2 separate regions of the Homo sapiens genome follow, and region 1 is linked to region 2. Evidence: fine-mapped expression QTL. A gene starts in region 2. The other region holds a variant in brackets. All regions are shown on one strand. Distances are from middle to middle.

What was found. PIP is the estimated chance that this variant, and not a neighbour inherited with it, causes the effect. A credible set is the group of variants that fine-mapping cannot tell apart.
Region 1: its variant is the best candidate, but not a certain one, in a credible set for the expression of NUSAP1 in whole blood (TOPMed, PIP 0.50).

The regions. Positions count from the first base shown.
Region 1 is chr15:41,404,546-41,407,455 of GRCh38, reverse strand. No RefSeq gene overlaps it. Among named protein-coding and RNA genes, the nearest start is that of NDUFAF1, 3.5 kb to the right of the region's middle. The variant G/A (reference allele first, on the strand shown) is at 1,358.
Region 2 is chr15:41,331,441-41,334,350 of GRCh38, reverse strand. NUSAP1 (nucleolar and spindle associated protein 1) reads right to left here and starts at 1,470. Exons shown (of 11, transcript NM_016359.5): 1 at 1,301-1,470. The coding sequence starts at 1,393. OIP5 (Opa interacting protein 5) reads left to right here and starts at 1,760. Exons shown (of 5, transcript NM_007280.2): 1 at 1,760-2,111; 2 at 2,370-2,436. The coding sequence starts at 1,790. RefSeq lists an enhancer at 1,747-2,006.

The DNA of each region.
Region 1 (2,910 bases), 73 kb before region 2:
CAGTTCATGTTCTTCCTCTAGGAACTACTCCCTAACTTGGATGAGCAGACATGATACAATGTAGTGAATAATGAGCATGTATCCTGGATTTAGCAGACAGACGTGGTTTGAATCCCAGCTCTGCTACTTCAACAGCTGTGATAAGCATGTGACTAGCATGTTACTTAACATCTGTTTTCTTACCTGGGAAATAGGTGTAATATGAGTACCTACTTCACAGAATTGTTCTGACAATGAAAAGAGAAAATGCCTGAGAAGTGTTAAACTCAATGTCTAGCCTAGAAGCACTCATTACACCCTTCTTTGGGCCAGTCTTGTACCTAATACCTCCCTCTGCTATAGTTTCTAACTGTGCTGCAGTTATTTGTTTGATGACATGCCCTCTATTGGACTGTGTACCTGTTGAACACTGTCCTATAGTTCAGCAATAATAGCTAGCTTTTTTGTACATTTACCAAATAATTCCAATAATTATGCAAATATTTTACATATATTATTTGATTTAATACTGATTGGAAATGACATTAGGATCCTGCTTAACACAAACTCAGCAGCTTAAAAAAAAATTAAAGAAAAAGCTCTCCTGGCTGGGCACGGTGGCTCACGCCTGTAATCCCAGCACTTTGGGAGGCCGGGGCGGGTGGATCACGAGGACAGGAGATCGAGACCATCCTGGCTAACATGGTGAAACCCTGTCTCTACCAAAAAAAAAAAATCAGCTGGGTGTGGTGGCATGCACCTGTAGTCTCAGCTACTTAGGAGGGCAAGACAGGAGAATCGCTTGAACCCGGGAGGTGGAGGTTGCAGTGAGCTGAGATCACGCCACTGCACTCCAGCTTGGGCATCAGAGTGAGATTCGGTCTCAAACAAACAAACAAAAAAATACCCTCCTGGCCAGGCGCAGTGACTCATGCCTGTAATACCAGCACTTTGGGAGGCCAAGGTGGGTGGATCACTTGAAGTCAGGTGTTGGAGACCAGCCTGGCCAACATGGCGAAACCCTGTCTCTACTAAAACAACAAAACTTAGCTGGGCGTGGTGGCGCACCCCTGTAGTCCCAGCTACTCAGGAGGCTGAGGCAGGAGAATCGCTTGAACCTGGGAGGCAGAGGTTGCAGTGAGCCAAGATTGGGCTGCTGCACCTTGGCCTGGGTGACAGAGCAAGACTCCGTCTCCAAACAACAAAAACAGGCCGGGCGCGGTGGCTCACGCTTGTGATCCCAGCACTTTGGGAGGCTGAGGCGGGTGGATCACCTGAGGTCAGGAGTTGCAGACTAGCCTGACCAATATTATGAAACCTCGTCTCTACTAAAAATACAAAAATTAGGCAGGCATGGTGGCATGCACCTATAATCCCA[G/A]CTACTCGGGAGGCTCAGACAGGAGATTCGCTTGAACCCGAGAGGTGGAGGTTGCAGTGAACTGAGATTGCGCCATTGCACTCCAGCCTAGACAACACGAGGAAAACTCCATCTCAAAACAAGCAAACACACAAACAAAAAATGATCCTGCTACCTTCTAAGGTTGGCCAGGGCTGAACAACACTTCTGCCTCTTTTGTCACTGCCTGCAATATAGGGGACTACAGGGCTTCACCCATTCATATTCGGATTCAGAACAGCTTCAATGTCCTCTGGTCCCAGGCTTCTGAATGATGCTCTTACTGTTCATTTCCTTTTAGGCAGGGGCTTCTCTTTGTAGTTGCCTGCTCTTAGTTTCCCTCACTTTGTTCCCTTTGTCATATTATCATTTATGGCATTTGTCAGCCTTATGTCCACAAATAGATAGATGGTCCCCTGTTGTCTCCATGTCTAATTTGGATGGGTTTCAGTTGTTGTTGTTGTTGTTGTTTTCTTTTTTGAGGCAGAGTTTCACTCTTGTCGCCCAGGCTGGAGTGCAATGGCAAGATCTCAGCTTACTGCAACCTCTGCCTCCCAGGTTCAAGCCATTCTCCTGCCTCAGCCTCCCGAGTAGCTGGGATTACGGGTGCTCGCCACCACCCCTGGCTAATTTTTGTATTTTTAGTAGAGACAGGGTTTTACCATGTTGGCCAGGCTGGTCTCGAACTCCTGATCTCAGGTGATTCACCCGACTAGGCCTCCCAAAGTGCTGGCATTACAGGTGTGAGCTACCCTGCCTGGCTGGGTTTCAGTTTTGTTGTGAACAAAGGTATAGTTAAGATTTGGTGGAGCCCACTACCACTGTCTGGGAGGCCAAGGAAGAAGGTGCTACAGACATGGTTGGGTTAACCTACATAATCATTTCCCCTCAGCTCTTTGCCTTTATTTCCTTCCTTTATTTCCTATATTTCCTTCCCCTAGTGACTCTACCTTTTCTTCTGCCTGGCATTGTCATGTCCTTCCTTTCTATTTGAATATTTTTTTCTTTCTTCCAGCCTTCCTTTCTCCACTGGTAATAAATACATATGGGGCTTCCTATACTTAAGCAAACAGCCTGGCACAGTGGCTCACGCCTGTAATCCCAGCACCTTGGATGGCCGAGGTGGGTGGATCAACTGAGGTCAGGAGTTGGAGACCAGCCTGGCCAACATGACGAAACCCTGACTCTGCTAAAAATACAATAATCAGCTGGGTGTGGTGGCATGCACCTCTAATCCCAGCTACTCAGGAGGCTGAGGCAGGAGAATCACTTGAACCCGGGAGGCGGGGGTTGCAGTGAGCCGAGATCACGCCACTGCACTCCAGCCTGGGTGAGGAAGACTGTGGTTCAAAAAAAAAAAAGCAGCAAACAACTAATGATTAGAGACATGCAAATCAAAACCAAAATGAGATACCACTTCACACTCATTAGGATGGCTACTATATTTTAAAAACCAAAAAAACAAGAAACGTGTCAGTGGGCTTGGAAAGAAGGTGTGAAAAGATCAAAGATCAAAAACAGCAAGAGAATGCAAC
Region 2 (2,910 bases):
AGTCAGGAGTTCGAGACCAGCCTGACCAACATGGTGAAACCCCATCTCTACTAAAAATACAAAAATTAGCCAGGCGTGGTGACACGCGCCTGTAATCCCAGCTACTCAGGAGGCTGAGGCAGGAGAATCGCTTGAACCCAGGAGGCGGAGGTTGCGGTGAGCCGAGATGGCGCCACTGCACTCCAGCCTGGGCGACAGAGCAAGACTCCGTCTCAAAGAAAAAACAAACAAACAAACAAATAAAAAAAAAATTGTGACGATTGATTTAAGCATTTACTCACTGTCAGTATCACAGCCTGCAGGAGAAACCTCCAGAGTATATAGCAGTATTATGTGGGAAGTCTCAACTATTAACAAAATATATAAAACCGCTATCCTACATTAAATCCCCAAATCTTCTTCTAACATCTTGGGTTTTTTGTTTGTTTTTGTTTTGTTTGAGACTGAGTCTCTCTCTGTCACCGAAGTTGGAGTGCAGTGGTGCGATCTTGGCTCACTGCCACCTCGGCTTCCCAGGTTCAAGCGATTCTTCTGCCTCAGCCTCCCAAGTAGCTGGGATCACAGGCAAAAAGCTTGGATCACAGGCGTGTGCCACCACGCCCGGCTAATTTTTTAAGGGCCAGGCTGGTCTCGAACTCCTGACCTCAGGTGATCCGCCTGCCTCGACCTCCCAAAGTGCTGGGATTACAGGCGTGAGCCACAGCGCCGGGCCAACTCTCCAAACATCTTGTAGCCTCGGAGTCAAAGACCTTACTGGTTTTGATAGAGACCATCAACCCAACAGTCATCAATAAAAATTTACCCAAGGAGGTGCTCCCCTAAAAGTCGATTTTTTTTTTCTGACAGGTCCATCAATAAAGTATCAAGAGATTATCGGCAATATTACAAATCACTGGAGTCTGTTTGGGGTTTTCCAGAAGCTGAGCCAATTATTTACTTAATTGTCTAACGATTAACGACACCCCTTGTGCTTTCTGGGCCTGAGTTTCGTAATCGACGCCCTGAGAGGTATACAGTAATTTCAAAACAAAACAAAACAAAAAACAATAAACCATCCCTCGGAATAGAGCTTATCATGTGAGCACCCAGACAAGCCAGCTTCAAAATGAGGTGAAAACTACAGTTCCTCTTCCGTTTATCAGAGTTCTAACTGGGACTACCGTGAACCACATCTACTGCCCGAGGGGCAGGGAGAGCTGCCTCAGTCCCGGGCTTCCCTCTCGGTCCCTTCGCACCGCATCTCCCCGAGGCCGCTATTCCCGCCGCGCCCGCCCAGGGACCCGCACCGCCAGCGCCGTACCCTCAGGTTGGCCCGGAGACCCAGACTCTTGGCTAAGTTCTGCAGGTCACTGTACTTGAGGGAGTCCAGCTCCTCTAGAGAGGGGATGATCATCGCGATTCGAAATCCCGGCGATACTCGGAAGATGGATCACCAAACTTCGTCAGCGCGGTTCAAATCCCTGGCGCCACTCTTAACTTTGACTAGGCAGAAATTTATAGACAGTTTAAATGAAGAATGCCGCGCTTCCATTGGTTGAAAATGCCTCAAAGGCGGGGTTTCTAACCCTGACCAATAGAAAGGCTGATTTCCCGTCCCAACAGAGGCGCGCTTTTTTCACACTTCACGAATACGCAGGCGCCAAAGGGCCTGTAACGCCTGTTCAGGTAACGAGTGCGCGGACTCGGACTCCAGTGCTTGGATTGCCCATGATGTCCAATGAGGACGCAGGAGCTGTGCTTGGGGCGGGGCCTGGCGTGTATTCGAAAGGAAGGCGCCGGCTGCGGGAAGATGGCGGCTCAGCCGCTGCGGCATCGCTCACGTTGTGCAACGCCGCCCCGGGGGGACTTTTGTGGTGGCACTGAGAGGGCGATTGACCAAGCTTCTTTTACGACCTCCATGGAGTGGGATACGCAGGTGGTGAAGGGGTCCTCGCCGCTCGGCCCCGCAGGGCTGGGGGCTGAGGAGCCAGCCGCCGGCCCGCAGCTGCCGTCTTGGCTGCAGCCTGAGAGGTGCGCTGTGTTCCAGTGCGCACAGTGTCACGCAGTGCTCGCCGACTCGGTGCACCTCGCCTGGGACCTGTCGCGGTCCCTCGGGGCCGTGGTCTTCTCCAGTGAGTGCAGTGAAGCGTTCGGGAAAGGCAGAGGCTAGCCCGAGAGGGTGTTCCCGCTTTCTCCACCGGGTGGCGGAGAACCACCTGGGGAAGAAAACGGGATGAAAAGTTGGAAGCAAATAACTCCTTGGCCTGGGGATGGGGCAGGGAATCGGGGAGTCTCCTGATATTTACGGCCAGGATGAGTCTGTCTAGAGGAGAGATTTTCCATTTCAAGGCCCGCAGAGTATGGGTTCTGACCCGTGTTTGTCTTCCTAGGAGTTACAAATAACGTCGTTTTGGAAGCGCCCTTCCTAGTTGGCATTGAAGGTTCACTCAAAGGCAGGTACGTATTGATAATTACATTGGTCTCTAGTCCCTGACTTTATGAGACTGAGGATCGTGGAACTGACATGTACGAGGAGAAAACAGTTTGGGATGCTGCTTTTACCTGTTTGACTCTTATATGAACTTGATGTATTAATGAAATGAAAAAGTTGTATTTGTGTATTGGTTTTAGGATCTTCCTGAGGGCCACTTCTCCCAGGTGGCTTGTACAAGTGAAGTGAGGCTAAGAAAGATGTATCTAGTAGTGGACAAAAGAAAAAAATAACCTTTTGGTTTACAGTGAGAATAACATACTATAAACTACAATCCTTTTAGATATTAGAACTTTTTGATACAGGGTCTTGCTCTCGCCCAGGCTGGAGTGCACTGGTGCGCTCATAGCTCACTACAGCCCCTACCTTCCTGGCTCAAGCTATCCTCCCAACCTCACCCTCCGGAGTAGCTGGGACTACAGGCACACAGCACCACTCCC